Linked DNA regions of Homo sapiens: all the other regions are linked to region 3. Evidence: fine-mapped expression QTL. A gene starts in region 3. Each other region holds a variant in brackets. All regions are shown on one strand. Distances are from middle to middle. Region 1 has its middle 32 kb from the start of S1PR1. Region 2 has its middle 42 kb from the start of S1PR1. Region 3 holds the start of S1PR1 (sphingosine-1-phosphate receptor 1).

What was found. PIP is the estimated chance that this variant, and not a neighbour inherited with it, causes the effect. A credible set is the group of variants that fine-mapping cannot tell apart.
Region 1: its variant is the best candidate, but not a certain one, in a credible set for the expression of S1PR1 in NK cells (Gilchrist 2021, PIP 0.54).
Region 2: its variant is the best candidate, but not a certain one, in a credible set for the expression of S1PR1 in whole blood (TOPMed, PIP 0.58).

The regions. Positions count from the first base shown.
Region 1 is chr1:101,265,988-101,271,216 of GRCh38, forward strand. It overlaps the pseudogene PPIAP7. Among named protein-coding and RNA genes, the nearest start is that of S1PR1, 32 kb to the left of the region's middle. The variant G/A (reference allele first, on the strand shown) is at 2,318.
Region 2 is chr1:101,276,479-101,281,707 of GRCh38, forward strand. No RefSeq gene overlaps it. Among named protein-coding and RNA genes, the nearest start is that of S1PR1, 42 kb to the left of the region's middle. The variant G/T (reference allele first, on the strand shown) is at 3,254.
Region 3 is chr1:101,234,233-101,239,461 of GRCh38, forward strand. S1PR1 (sphingosine-1-phosphate receptor 1) reads left to right here and starts at 2,787. Exons shown (of 2, transcript NM_001400.5): 1 at 2,787-2,867; 2 at 4,590-5,229. The coding sequence starts at 4,753. S1PR1-DT (S1PR1 divergent transcript) reads right to left here and starts at 2,296. Exons shown (of 2, transcript NR_104626.1): 1 at 2,093-2,296; 2 at 641-1,649. RefSeq lists enhancers at 1,877-1,966, 4,600-4,649.

The sequences.
Region 1 (5,229 bases), 32 kb after region 3:
TGTTGGCAGCTCACAAGGATTCCCTCCTTGAGCATTGTCCTCGGTTTAAGATTATATATCCCTTTTTCTTTTTCTACTTCTCTCTTTCTTTCCTTTTTTTTTTTTTTTTAAACAGGGTCTCACTCTTTTTTAGACAGGGTCACCCAGGCTGGAGTGCAGCGGTGCCATCTCAGCTCTGTGCAAACTCTGCCTCCAGGGTTCGACTGATTCTGGTGCCTCAGCCTTTTGAGTAGCTGGGACTACAGGCATGTGTCACCATGCCCAGATTATTTTTGTATTTTTAGTAGAGATGGGGTTTCACCATGTTGGCCAGGCTGGTCTCGAACTCCTGGCCTTAAATGATCTCTGCTCTCTTCAGCCTCCTGATGTTCTGGGATTACAGGCATGAGCCACGGCAACCGGCTTTATATCCCTTTTTGATGGGCAGCCTGCATTCAATGCTGGTTGAAGCAAGAGTACAAACTCTGGTACAAAGAGTACAAGAGTTCAGGACAACTCTGAAGGGTCATGCCAGTTCCAGAGCTCCCTGGATTTGCTGAGGACTCTGTTACAACTGCATCACACTTCAACTTCTCCCTCCGCCCAATCATGCTTTTTTACTCTCTTACAGACATTGTTTCTAAGGACATTCCTGTAGTAGATACTGTGATCCATTGCCCAAATGTCCCTTCAGGAACAAGGAGTTAATAGCTATGGTGCTGGGAATCTTGGGCAAACATATTCAGAGATAAGGCCTCTTCAGGGCAGCTAACACCTAATGACTGATCCAGTAGGGGTACAAAGGCACCACTCTCTCACCTCAACTTGGGATAGCACTGAAGGATCATCTTAATTCAGAAGTCCCTGCCCCAAAAAAAGGACACATTGTCTAATTTGATTCATCTCCAGAGACACAGTGTCATCATGGTCCTCCTTCTGCCCCCGTGAGATTGGAGTTTGATGAGGCCAGGTAACAAATAAATGCCTGTGTAAATTCTAGCTACGGTGGGTCCATAGACACCCCCAGTGATCCTTTCTCAAATCTCTAAGTGCATAACTAGGATTGACATACTGGCAGTCAGAGGAACCCCACTTTGTATCATTGACCTGTGGGGAAGGCCATATCATAGTGGAGAAGGCCAAGTGGAAACCTCTTGAAACCGTCCATACACCCCTTCCCCCAGCCAAGGCAGCAAATGGAGAAAAATTGCACCCTGGAGTAGAGGAATAGCAGAGATTAATGCTACTATTAAAGATCTAAAAATGCAGGGATGGTGGTCACTACTCACTCTCATATCCTCATTTAGCAGCACCAGTCTGGATCCTGCAGAAACTGGGTGATTCTGGAGAATAACAGCAGAAAACCACAGCTCAAACAAGTGATAGCCCCAGTTGTAGCTACTGTGCTGGATGTGGTTTTATTGCTAGATAAATGAGATAAAATAGGTTAATGAGATTTCAGGTACGTGGTGTGTGGTCATTGATTTGGGAAATGGATTCTTTTCTATTCCAATTAGAAAGAAGATTAGAGATAATTTGCATTCATGTGATGTGAGTAATATTCAACTGCAGCTTTGATCCAGGGCTATGCTGACCCTCTTCCTTTTACCACAATATAATCTGAAGATATTTGGATCTTCTTGAAATTTCGCTACAAGTCATATTGATTCATTCCATCAATGACATTATGCCGACTGGATAATACTCTAGAAGACTTCATAAGACACTTGCAAGATAAACACTATGAAGATTTATTGACCTCTCACTTTGATGTAGTTTGTATGGATCTAGTAGTCTGGGGAACATTGGACTATCCCCTTCAAATTAAGAGGCACATCTTGCATCCCTTATCACAAAGAAGGAAGCTCAGTGTGTGACAGGCATCTTTCATTTGTGGGTGTATAAGATAACACACTATACACCTAGAAGTACCACTAGCTTTGAGTGAGGCCCAGAGCAGGAAAAAGCTGTCCACTAAAGCAAGGCTGTGGTGCAAGCAGTTCTGTCATTCGGGCCCATGACTGACCCCAAATTTGCTGGAAATGTCAGAGGTGGGACTTACCAAATCACAAATTAGAGCAGGCCCAGCTGCTGTTCATCATAATAGTTTTTCCGAGGTTAAGCCCAAGTATGACCAGAGGGCATGAGTATACAGTACATCACTCTCCGTAGTTGCACAAGTGTTTATTTCCCAGCTTACACCTATGGCCACATAAGGGGTCTCATACGACCAGCTGATAGAGGAGGAAAAAGCATGATCTTGGTTTGTCAATGATTGGTCTCAGTATGTGTGTGCAAGCTGACTATAAACAGTGACTGTATTATAGGTACAATCCGA[G/A]TTGGCCTTGAAAGTGGAGAGTGAAATTTCCAATGGGCAGACCTGTTGTAAGTATACTGAGTCATCCACTTTTTGTGAAAGAAGTCGCCTGAAACAAAAATATATGAAAAATCCTAGATAGTGGAAAATGGCCTAACTGTCTGTTAAGGGGGCTGGAAGGAAAAGGACTAGAAGACTGAAGACAAGGAAGTCTCAGGTAGATATATGGAGGCAGAGGAAATATGAAAGTGGGCATAAAGTGTAAAGATTTTTGTATCACACGTTAACCCTCACTTGCACACATCCACCAGCAAAGAGGCACTGAGCAACCAATTATTTAACATTATTTGGACAGTTGATGTTAGCTAGTCTTTGTCATTGGCCACCCTGCAACCAGCACAAGAAATGCTATAGTGGCAGATATGGAAGCTACGTATAGGTCAACAGCATGGACTTTTTACCAGGTTCGATATAGCTATTGCCTCTTTTGAATATTCAAACTTTCAGTGGCGTAGACCAATGTGCCTACCACTAATATGGCAATATATGGCACTGATCCTCCAGGAAGACAACCCGTAACTTGGTGGCAAGTCAGCTACTTTGGGCCCCTTCTATCCAAGTAGTTGATTTGCCACCAAATCAACTATTAAATTCTGGAACGGTCAGAATTTCATTCTCACAGAGATAAATACTGGTTCCAGGAATGCAAAATCTCAGCTAGTACCACTCTCTAGGGGGCTTACAGAATTACTGACATCTAGGCCTGGACTCTCACAAACACAGCATTTGAGCAGGGAACCCACTTCAAAGAAGGAGGCACAGGAGTGAGCCCATGAATATGTTTTTTTCTCTCATACCGCATCATCCAGAAGTAGCTGATCTCATAGACCCAGATAGTTTCAATGATGAATTCTATCAAATATTTAAGGTAGAAATAGTATAAATTTTTTTTTTTTTTTTTTTTTTTTTTAGTGGAGATGACTTCTCACTCTGTTGCCCAGGCTGGAGTGCAGTGGCACTGATCATAGCTCACTGCAGCCTCAAACTCCTGAGCTTAAGGGATCCCCCGTCTCAGCCTCCTAAGTACCTGGTACTATAGACGTGTGCTACCACACCATGCTAACTTTTTAAAAATTATTATTATTATTATTTTGGAGACAGAGTCTTGCTCTGTTGCCCAGGTTGGGATGCAGTGGTGAGATCTCGGCTCACTTCAACCCCGCCTACCGGGTTCAAGCAATTCTCATGCCTCAGCCTCCCAAGTAGTTGAGATTACACATGTGCACCACCATGCCTCACTAATTTTTTTGTGTGTATTTTTGTATTTGTAGATATGGGGTTTTGCCATGTTGGCCAGGCTGGTCTTGAACTCCTGGCCTCAAGTGATCACCTGCCTTGGCCTCCCAAAGTGCTGGGATTACAGGTGTAAGCCACCACACCCAGCCTTAAAAAATATTTTGTATAGACAGGGTCTCACTATGTTCCTCAGGCTGGTCTCAAACTCATGATCTCAAGTGATCCTCCCACCTCAGCCTCCCAAAGTGCTGGTATTATAGGTGTGAGCCACCATGCCCAGCTGAAATAATACAAATCTAACACAAACTTTTTTCTTTCTTTTGAGACAGGTTATTGCTTTGTTGCCCAGGCTGGAGTGCAGTGGCACAATCATAGCTCGCTGCACCCTCAAACTCCTGGGCTCAAGGAATCCTTCCACCTCAGCCTCTTGAGTAGCTGGGACTACAGGTGCATGCCACCATGTCTGGCTAATTTTCAAATTTTTTTGTAGGGACAGTCTGCCTGTGTTGACCAGGCTGGTCTCAAGCTCCCGGACTCAAGTGATCCTCCTGCCTCAGACTCCCTCAGACTGGGATTACAGGCATGAGCCACCATGCCCAGCCTGCAAACTTCTTAAAAAATATATGAGAAGGGAACTGCCCCAAATTTCCTTCACAAGGCCAGAATTATATTGACATCAAAGCCTGTCAAATAAATTTTAAAAACAGATAATAAAACAAAGAAATAAAAAATTACAGATGAGTATTCCTCATGAACACAGATGCAAAAATTCTGTACAAAACATTAGTACATCAAATTGAGCAATGCCTAAAACGGATAATATATTATTACCAAGTAGAGCTTATCTTAGGAATGCAAGCTTAGTTCAAGGTCTTCTTCAAACCAATCAATGAAACTCACACATCAAGGAGAAAAAGAGAAAACTATGATAGTTATATTCAATATATGCAGAAAAAGCATTTGACAAAATAAAACATCAATTCATGATTAGAAACCTTCACTAAAGGAAGAATAGAATAGAAAGAAAATGCTTTAATTTCATAAAGGGCATCTATGAGAAACTTACAGATAATGTTATGCTCTTTATTGTTATGTAGTTTTTATTTCATAGTTATAAACTTAACTCTGCAATCCAGCTAGGCATAGAAAGGGAATAAGGAAAAGAGAGAACACAAAGGGAACTGCAATGAGAGTACAAAGATTATAGGATACTGAAGCATATGGGGTGGAGGGGTGCTCTCCTGAGCTACAGAAGGATTGGTCTGGTGGTTAAGTTAAAACACAAGTCAAGCTTATTAGAGTTGCCCACAGTCAGCAATGATAATCTTCTTGTTGGTCTTGCCATTCCTGGACCCAGAGCGGTCCATGGCCTCCACAATATTCATGCCTTCTTTCACCTTGCCAAAGACCACATGCTTGCCATCCAACCACTCAGTCTTGGCAGTGCAGATGAAAAACTGAGAACCGTTTGAGTTGGGTCTAGCATTTGCTATGGACAAGATGCCAGGACCTGTATGCTTCAGAATGAAGTTCTCATCATCAAATTTCTCCCCGTAGATGAACTTGCCATCAGTGCCATTATGGCATGGGAAGTCACCACCCTGACACATAAACTCTGAAATAATTCTGTGAAAGCA
Region 2 (5,229 bases), 42 kb after region 3:
TGTGTGGGTCCACTTACATGTTTTATTTTTTTCAATAGAAGTTACACCAAGGAAGTGCCTTCCTCTCCTGCCTCCCCTTCCACCTCCTCCACCTTCTCCACCTCTGCTACCTCTGAGACAGCAAGGCCAACCCCTCATCTTCGTCTCCTCCTCAGCCTACTTATGAAGACAATGAGGGATGAAGACCTTTATGATGGTTGACTTCTACTTAATGAATAGAATAGTAAATATATTTATCTTCATTATGACTTTCTTAATAACATTTTCTTTTCTTTATTTCTTTATTGTAAGAATACATATATAATCCATATAACATACAAAATATCTTTTTCTTTTTTCTAGTGGTGGTGATATACATGGATTTTTGACTGTGCAGAGGGTCGGCGTCCCTAGATCCTGAGTTGTTCAAGGGTCAATTGTACATAATAATTTAACTTTTGCAAAACAAAGATAAAAGAATGCCACATATGTGTATGCACATAAATCTTATGTCTGCCTATTTAGAATTCTGTGGTCGGAAACATATGGCGTTCCTGACATAAATTACCTTAAGGAGGAGCAGTTGCTGATGTAGTGGAGCGGGAGAAAGAGGAAGAAAGAGAAAGAACAATGCAGAAAGGCTTCACTGAAAGAAAAGCATGCTTTTGATATTACATTTCTGTACGTCTGCAAAACAAATTTATGTTGTTATGTTTGTAAAGACATCTATTAATTATGTTTATTAATGTATTTTGTAAGCATGTTTATTACTAGATACCAAGCAGTATTCTACGTGGTTTCAAATAGCAATTAATTTAATCATTCCAACAGCCCTCTGAGGCAGGTTTGGTTAGTGTCTGTATTTCCAAGATAAGGAAACTGAGGCACAGAAGAGGTTGTCACAGTTACAGAGTTGGTAAGCAGCAAGTCAGGGATTTGAGTGCAGGCATTATCGGTCCAGAGTCTATCTTCTTAACTACTGCATTATGCCCCTTCTCTTTTTAATAAAAAGTAAACCAGCCATCTCCACTCTCCACTGCTTTACTCTATCCCGTAGCTTGCCATTGCACTTGGAAGCCAGTTCTAACTCCTCTGGTGGACTTTAAGGCCCCGTGACATCCAGCCTCTGCCAAGCTCTCTAGACACCCAGCCTCACTGACCTCTGTCTCTTCTTTGATTTGCCTGTTCTGCATCTTGTTCCCTTGCCTTTTTCTCAGGTCACCTTATAACTGGCTCTGTCACATCCTTCAGATCTCAGTGTAATGTCCCTTCCTTGAGGGGGCTTCCCTAACCACCTATCTAAGTAAGTCTCCTTACACCTCTCCTTTCTTTCTCTTTTTTTCTTTTTCTTTTGAGACGGAGTCTTGCTCTGTCACCCAGGCTGGAGTGCAGTGGCACGATCTCGGCTCACTGCAACCTCCACCTCCTGGGCTTAAGTGATCCTTGAGCCTTAGCCGCCTGAGTAGCAGGGATGACAGGCATGCAACGCCACGCCCAGCTATTTTTTTATTTTTTGTAGAGACAGGGTTTCGCTATGTTGCTTAGGCTGGTCTCAAACTCTTGAACTCAAGTGACCTGCCCACCTCAGCCTCCCAAAGTGTTGGGATTACAGGCATGAGCCACCACACCCGGCCTCCCCTATACCTATCATAACAAACTCTTCGTCTTCTTCATACTACTGAATGCAGCCTGTACTTATTTGTGTTATTTGCTTACTGTGTATCTATCTCCTCTGTGCAGTATAAGCCCCAGGGGGCAGGGTCTTTTTAAGTCTTGGCCTCCATTGTATCCCCAGCACTTGCCACAGGGCTTGGTTAATAGCGGGTACAGAAGAAATTTTTTTAAAATAAATAAATACATGAATGAAAGGCAATACTGAAAGGTGAGGAAGGGTTTGGTTCTGAAATCAGACAGACCAGAGTTTGACTCAATCCTCTAAGATTGGCAGACTTGTGAAACCTCTTGAAACATGTATTGTCATCTGTGAAAGGGAGATAATAATAGTATGTACCCCATAGAGTTGTTGCGAGGATTAAATGAGATAAATTATCTACCATGCACATCGTAACCCCTAATGCATCATAGCTGCTATTATTACAGCCATCAGTATCATCATGCTGAGGCTGCTTCACAGGCCATTGTCCAGCCCGTGGGGTGACAGAGCTTGGATCAGATCCTATCACTTTTCCAATCAGCTTAGGCTTGGCAGGTAGGATTTGGGGAATAACTTCTAGCTAAGCCTGTGTGTGGAGCAGGCACATGATTGTCATGCCCGTAATAGTGTTGAAAACCAGGAACATTTTCTAGAGAGCCACTTTCTCCTCCTCCCTTGTTTTTCCTAGCCTTCTTTCAGTTCCCTTCCCTTTCTTGGTATTGCTTTTAATACAGCCTGAATTAAGCCAGTCCTCTGCTTAGCTCCCTTTCTGCCATTGGAAAGCATCTTTGGGAGTGTAAGGGATTCTGTTCCTTCAGTTGATAGAGCATGCTTCACAGAGACAGGTATTTGAGGTTGTGTTAAGTTAGGTTAACCAGACTTTGAAGGAAACACACAGTAGCTTAATCATAGCACAGAGATGATAACCTCATGGTTTTCTCTTCTTCCTGGGTCTCAGGAAGCGACGGCTACTCCACCCTTCCCAGTGGTTGCTGGCAGAAAACATTGATGTCGATTAGTATATAGGGTATATACAGAGAGTGATGGAAAAGAAAATGCAAATAGGAGCTAAGATATTTTCACAGTGGAAAACAATTGGAAACTGGAAAATAAGAGAGGATGGCCTCAGGAGGTCTTGAATGCCTTATGTTTATTCAAGGTGAGGGGCAGAAGCTATTGGTTCTCTCGAGATTAGCCAGAGAAGACTTCCTGGAAAAGTACCGAATTATCCAGTTGGCCATGGGTGCCAACTCCTAAAGACTTCCTGCCTCCTGCTTTTTTGAACTTATTTTGTAGTTGTCTGAGCATATTGTCTTGTATATGTGATGCTGTCCTCTTTTCCAGGAATGACTTTTCTATTCTGTATTCCCTTAACTGCCTTAGGAACTCCTGTAACTTTTCTGCGACTAGCCTCAGTACCTAGCACAGTGCCTGACACATTATAGTCATTTCCTAAATGTTTGCTGAATGAATGATGGATATCCAGAAAGAAAAAAAAGTTAAATGTTGGGTGCATACAAATCTCTGGAATTAACTATCCCGAAAGATGTGGGTGTGTTGGCTCACACCTGTAATCCCAGTGCTTTAGGAAGCTGTGGTGGGAGGATTGCTTGAGGCCAG[G/T]ACTTCCAGACCAGCTTGGGCAACAGCTAGACCTTGTCTTTACAAACTATAAAACAATTAGCTGGGCTTGGTGGCATGCACCTGTAATCCCAGATACTCGGGGGGCTGAAAGAGGAAGGATTATTTGAGCCCAAGAGTTTGAGGCTGCAATGAACTATGATTGTGCTACTGCACTCTAGCCTGTGCAACAGAGAAGACTCTATCTCTTAAAAAAATTATCCCAGAAGATTATATAAGTTAACTAAGGAAATATGTCAAAAGAAAGGCTAGACATAGTCTTGGGGGATAGTGGCATCCTGGGTGACAGAGGAGAGCTTGAGTTGGCAGGGGTTTGAGGGGATAGGAAACTGGAGGTTGTGTCCTGCACAGAGAGTCTGGTAGAGGGAAAGTAAACAAGCTCTGATATCCAGAACTCCTTTTACTAGCTTAAGCTAAGTAAAGGTTAAGCTTAGGTTAAGCTGTACTCATCATTCAGTGGTGGCTGAAAGTGGCACCTGAAGAAGCTCTTGGGCTTGCCTCAGAGGGACATCTTTAAAAGGAGCACCAATTGTTATCTTTTCTGAGATGGTTTCAGTGAAGTCAAGGTTGAATGGAAGGACGTATACTGACCACTAAATCTCTTACAACTCTTTGTTTTTATCTGATGGTAGGATTTAAAATTTACATGTACTGAATATTCATATATGCAGTCAGTCTTAGATTATCCCAGGGCAGAGTGCATATATTGATTGGGTTAGTGGCCCATCACAATCATTTTTGATTTCAAGCTCTTGCTAAGATAATTACAGACTCTGTAATTAATCCCTTTGTTGAAATTATTACTGTCAGTGATTATTCTGACATGGAGTTAATGCAAGGATGCTTTTCTCTTGCAAAGCAGTGTTTCCCTTCTCCTTTCCACTGATTGGCATTTCAAGAAGAAAGAAGGCAAGCAACACCTTTATGTATTAGTCTGAAGAGACTGCTGTTTAGGAGAAGCACATGGCACAGTGGAAAGGAGACAGACTAGGTGTCTGTCATTCATTTAACAGTTATTGAGCTCAATAACTCAATAACTGTTAAATAATATTAGCAATAATAACTATTGAGTTCAATAACTCAATAAGTGTAATAAGTACAGGCTAGGTGCCTTAGGTTCAAATCCTAGCTCAGTCATTTACTAGCTATGTGACCTAGGGTGACTGACCATCCCAGTTTGCCCAGGACTGTCCTGGTTTTAGCACTGAAAGTCCTGCAGTCTGGGAACTCCCTCAATCCTGGACAAACTGGGACAGTTGATCGCCCCAGTTAGTCACTTGCACTTATCTATAAAATACGGAAATTTCTTATTTTTTGTATCGTGAGTTTGGTGTGAGGGTCAAATGAGATAATGTGAAAGAATTTTGTAAATTATAAACTGCTATATAGACATAAAATACATTCCGCTTGTCTTGTTTTCTTGTCTCAGGTACATGTAGCAAAAAGCTTGGCTATAGAACTGAATTTGACACTAGGGCTAAGGCAGGCACTGAGGGATGGGGGACCCCTGGACTCCTCAGGCTCTGGGAAAGTTTCCATCTGACTGCAAAGTTTGGGGCCTGAGGGGACAGCATATTGCATCAGAATCCAGCAGGCAAATTGTAAAGAGATCCATACAAGCTGGCAGTGGGCTTCTGGTATGTTCTCAAAGCACAGTTGTCTGCAAGTAGGCACCAGGGCAATAGCCATAGGCCTGACAGCTTAGGAATCTCTTTGGGAGGGGATTGGCAAGAGCAGCCCAGGTGTTCTAGCAGAGGGACCTGGAGTATTGGGACAATACCTATAACAGCATGAACAGGACCAAAACAGGCACCAAGGCAGAGCCCTGTTACCAGACCAAGACCCAAGGCTGAGGATGGATCCTTAGTCAAGATGACTCAAAGCTGGGCCCCAGAATGTGAGGCTGAGGATGGAGGTAGGAAGAAGTGTCTGTGAGAGGAAGATGGGGTAAGAAAAGT
Region 3 (5,229 bases):
TGTAAAGAACAACAAAGCCACTTTGAAATCAAAAATTGGAAATGGAGCAAACTTAAGGTAGGAATGTTGGGCTTGACTTCTAGGCAGCAGCAGACAGGGAGTTGTACTGGCAGTCAGGAGATAGCTTGAGAATGCAATTTTTAGGGCCTCCTTGGAGAGCAATGGGAAGAGACTTATATGGGAACTAGAGACTTGGAATTGGCCAGGACGCCATTGCTGGAAACATTTGCCTACTATCTAATTTTACCTAAGTTGATCATCTACAATTACATCTCATAGGTGTGTACTAAAGATGAATATTATTAAATAACAATCTGAAAGGTTTTTGGACTCTGTAAAACACTTTATCAATATTGAATGTTAAAAACCAGTGGTATTCACAAGAAAACAACTGATATCCCCAAGGAAATTCTTGAACCTGTTTGAGGTTTATCATGGTGGTCTGGAGTAGTGGTTAAGAGTCTGCAGCCTGTCCCACATTAAGCAAGCTGCTTAATATGTCTGGGAGTCAATTTCCTTGTTTGTAAAATTAGAATAATTATAGTGCCTAACTTGTCAGATTAAATGGATTAATATGTGTAACACTATGTGCAAATACTAAAAGTACAATGTTACATGAGATATCATAGGCAGACAATGAGAAGTTTCAGAAAACATTCATTAATATGCATATGTATACACTTTGTATGCTTACGTAGAAAATGAGTGGTTTTAAAAGGACATTCATTAGCATACTTTTATATGCATTTTGTAGACTTGTACAGTCAGAAATGCAGCAAATGTAAAACTTTAAATCTAGAAGTCTGTTTCCCTCTAGGAACATATATTTCAATTCCTTAACTATTTATTGACTGATAGCGTTTGAGCCACAAGGCAAGGCATTTGCAATATTTAGGTTTTGGAACCCAGCTCTGCCACTCACTAGCTGGGAAATCTACAAGTCACCTTAGTTGTCTGAATGACACTTCTCTCAACAATAAAATGGCCAGCAATGCTTACTTACTTCACAGAGCAGTAAGGTTAAATTAACCTAGCACATGCTTGATACAGACTAGGTGTGAAATTTCACTTTGATTCCTTTGGCTTTAAAGAATGCATAAATTAGTGTGGGTGGAGGCGGGAGAAGGGGGGGAATGCCAAGTCCCCCGTTTTGTTGTGCTGGGTAGACACAATATACCTCTTCCCCTTTAAGTGAAATAAGTCTTCAAATCCAATTAGGATCTACTCTGGAGTCTTAGAGGACCGTTATCTTGGTTTCCACATTATATGCACTGTACTGTTGTTGAAGCTGTGGGTATGTATTGGGTGCGTCGCTGTCGATGAATGCTTTAAAACAGCTGTGAATTAACTGTCACTTCTTTTTTTTTTTTTTTTGGCAAACTCACAAAATCCCAGAAGTCAGGGGTCTGTTGTTTGTTCATTCTGCCTCCTTCTGAGTCATTCAGGTACAGGGTGTGTCTGCCAATTGAAACTGCACAGCGGAGGAAGTTTTTGAGTTCACATCTGCCGGGATGGGAACGCAGTGCGACCAGGGACTGGGTGGAAACTTTTACAACAGTAATGCAAGGGCAGAAGCGTCCTGTCCTGAGCTTGTCACGCAGGCAGATCTGACCAAGTCCGCCTCTCAGCCTCACGTTCTTAAGTAGCATCTAAGCAAAAGAAAAGGGTGGGCAAAGTGCTAGTAATGAGATTTGAGGCCTCTGAGTCGACTCCCAAGCAGAATGTGAGAGAAGGGTGCCGGCTCCTGCTGGGCAGCTGCAGTTGCTCCGCAGCTCCTGGCCGAGAATCTCCCCCTTTGGAAATTCCTGAGCTGCCCAGGCGTTTTGAATCTCTCAGGACTCAGCAGCAGCCCACCCCCTCAACGACCTCTCCATTGGCCAGAATCTGGGACACACAGCCTGACTTTGTGCTCAGCTGAGGGAAACCCCTCGCCCAACACCAAAACCGGCGCTGGTTCATTTCTCTGTGCACTCTGGGAAAGCCACTGCCCCTCAGACCGCAGTTGCGAGTAGCACGAGGATCTGGGGTGGCGGGGGGAGTACAGGAACCTCCCGGTTCATTCTCCCTCCCGGGCTGCTTGTCTCCTCCGTACCTCTCGCAGCCCCTTCCCAGCCTCTCCTCCCCAGAGCGCCGCCGACACTCGCCGGGCCGCGGCTCAGGTTTTCTGCTGCTCGCGCGAAAGTGGCTCGGGGAGCTCCTGGCCACAAGCTCAGCACACCGATCCTCCTAGGGCTGCGGGGGGTGTGGGACCAGGGCGGTGCGCTACGAGACTCCGGGCCGTCCTCTGCCTCCTCAGACTTTTCGAGAGAAAAGTTTTCAAAGTCTCTCCACCTTTTTTTTTTTTCAGGGGCTCGGGAGAATCCTCTCCACAGCCAGGGATCAGCGTCTATCTGGGCGAGGGCAGTGATTTATACAGTAGAATCCAGGGGTTACCGGGCTCCGCCCCTTCTCTCTCTCTCTTTTTTTCTTTCATTTGTTGTTTGGGGAGGAGGGGTTCTTTTTTTTTTTTTTTTTTTTTTTTTTGCTTCTGCCCCAGATCTTTCCTGGACAGTGCGTCTCAGCAGTTCAGATCCGGGGGCCCCCAGCTGACAGAGGGCGTGGGGGGTTAAGGCATTAACCCCTCCCAGCCTCTTCCTGAAGAAACCACCCAGCCTTGGCGCGGCGCTGGGTGACTTCGCGTAGCAGGCAGGGAACTGGCCGCGGCGAGCGGGACTGGCCATTGGAGTGCTCCGCTGCGGAGGGAGGGGACCCCGACTCGAGTAAGTTTGCGAGAGCACTACGCAGTCAGTCGGGGGCAGCAGCAAGATGCGAAGCGAGCCGTACAGATCCCGGGCTCTCCGAACGCAACTTCGCCCTGCTTGAGCGAGGTAGGGGGCGGCGAATGGCGGGGGTCGCGGGCGCGGGGAGCCCGGTTGTGGTAGGGCTTAGGTGTCAGAAACGAATTTTTAAGTCGAACGAGGCAAACAAAAACTTAGAAAACATGCATCTCCGGGCGCTGAAAATTTGCATCTCTGGGCTACTAAGGAGCCCATCTCGATCAGATTGTTCTTGGGCACTTGTGATTTATGGAGTTCAGAAAAAAGGTTAATTCCCAACTGTGGAACCTACGGGTGTAGGGGCAGTGAAAATTGCAGTTGGTCGGAGGAATAGGAGGGAAGGCGTTAAATTTTGGAAATCCTATAGACAAAGAATATGGTGGGTGGTGTGGAGCGTGGGTAATGGCTTAAATTAGTACTGCCCAGGAGCAGGGTATAAAATTAGTTGGGGGAAAATGCGGAGCTTCTTGGCTTGAGCAGCCTCTGCTGTTCGCGGAGTTGCTGGGATTGTTCTCATCTCTATTACCTCATTTTATTGCATTGCTGCATTACCTTGAAATATTTAAGCAACTTAGAAGTAGACTTCTGCTGACCAGTGCCGTCTTAGAAAGTTTCTTTGTAACTTTCTAGTCCTAGGAGAGGAGTCAACGTGTTGGGGGACTGCAGTAAATAAAACTGCCCACGCAAATTTAGCAATGCACCAGGGAGCAGTTTAATGTGAGTTTCTGAAGAGTAGTTTTGCAATCGAAATTAGAAATGTGGTAGCATGTATTATGGCTGTCATGAGTAGTTTGATTTCTCTCTTTTGTGTATGTTTTGGCTAAACTAAACAAAGCAAAAAATATTTATGCAATCAACTAATGTACGAAACTTCTGGGATTTGCTGCAATCTGTTATGAATGGTTTTAACTGAATACCTTTAAATTTACTTGCCCTGGCTTGGGGTGGGGGGTGGGGTGGGGGGGCGCGGGGGGAGGCGGGGAGAATAAGAAGAAGAAAGAAAAGGCAGTCGCTTCACGGAGGCGCTAAGCTTTCCTGTTTACAGCAAGGCGGGGCGGGCCTGGCTGCCCACACCTCACTGCGCCCTCGGACCCTAAGCACACCTGCTCCTAGAGAGTTATTAATAGAGCCCCCAAATGGCTTACGCTTTCAAATGATTTTCCTGCAAATCTGATTTCTTGCATGGCACATGGCAATTAGGAGGTGGTGCTAGTATCTTTGAACTGGGGGGCTGGGGGTGGGCATGGGGGACAGAGGTGTGTGTCTTCGCCCTCAGACTGGCAGTTGAGTCTTTTCCGAGGAGAGACGTGGGCTGGTATTGAGCGTGCAGCTAAGCTGGTGACTGCTTCAGAGAATCTCATGGCTGGAAATCCGGGGGTGAGGGGGTGTGGGGTGGTGAGAGGGCAGGAGTGGAGTTAAAATGGGGTGTAGTTCTCTAGGTTTCCCATTCCTCCCACTCCTTGTTTTCCTTTTCATCATCTTTTTTTTTTTGTCAACCCACAGCCAACATCGTAATTCCCATTTCCCTTTGAGTGAATGTGGCCATAGAGTTTCTCCCTCTCTTTTTCTTCCCCCTCTTCCTTTTTTGAAAAAAGAAAAAAAAGGAAGAAAAAAGATAATTTGATTTTTAAAAAAAATCTCTCTCCCTGAGCTCTCCCCAAGTTTCTTTAAAACAAATCAACAACAACACAATTGGAGCAGTGCCTTAGCTAGAATGAATTATGCCAGTATGCTGTGGCTCTTTCCCTGACTCTCTCCTCTGACTTGTTTAAGGCTGCGGTTTCCGAGGCCCTCTCCAGCCAAGGAAAAGCTACACAAAAAGCCTGGATCACTCATCGAACCACCCCTGAAGCCAGTGAAGGCTCTCTCGCCTCGCCCTCTAGCGTTCGTCTGGAGTAGCGCCACCCCGGCTTCCTGGGGACACAGGGTTGGCACCATGGGGCCCACCAGCGTCCCGCTGGTCAAGGCCCACCGCAGCTCGGTCTCTGACTACGTCAACTATGATATCATCGTCCGGCATTACAACTACACGGGAAAGCTGAATATCAGCGCGGACAAGGAGAACAGCATTAAACTGACCTCGGTGGTGTTCATTCTCATCTGCTGCTTTATCATCCTGGAGAACATCTTTGTCTTGCTGACCATTTGGAAAACCAAGAAATTCCACCGACCCATGTACTATTTTATTGGCAATCTGGCCCTCTCAGACCTGTTGGCAGGAGTAGCCTACACAGCTAACCTGCTCTTGTCTGGGGCCACCACCTACAAGCTCACTCCCGCCCAGTGGTTTCTGCGGGAAGGGAGTATGTTTGTGGCCCTGTCAGCCTCCGTGTTCAGTCTCCTCGCCATCGCCATTGAGCGCTATATCACAATGCTGAAAATGAAACTCCACAACGGGAGCAATAACTTCCGC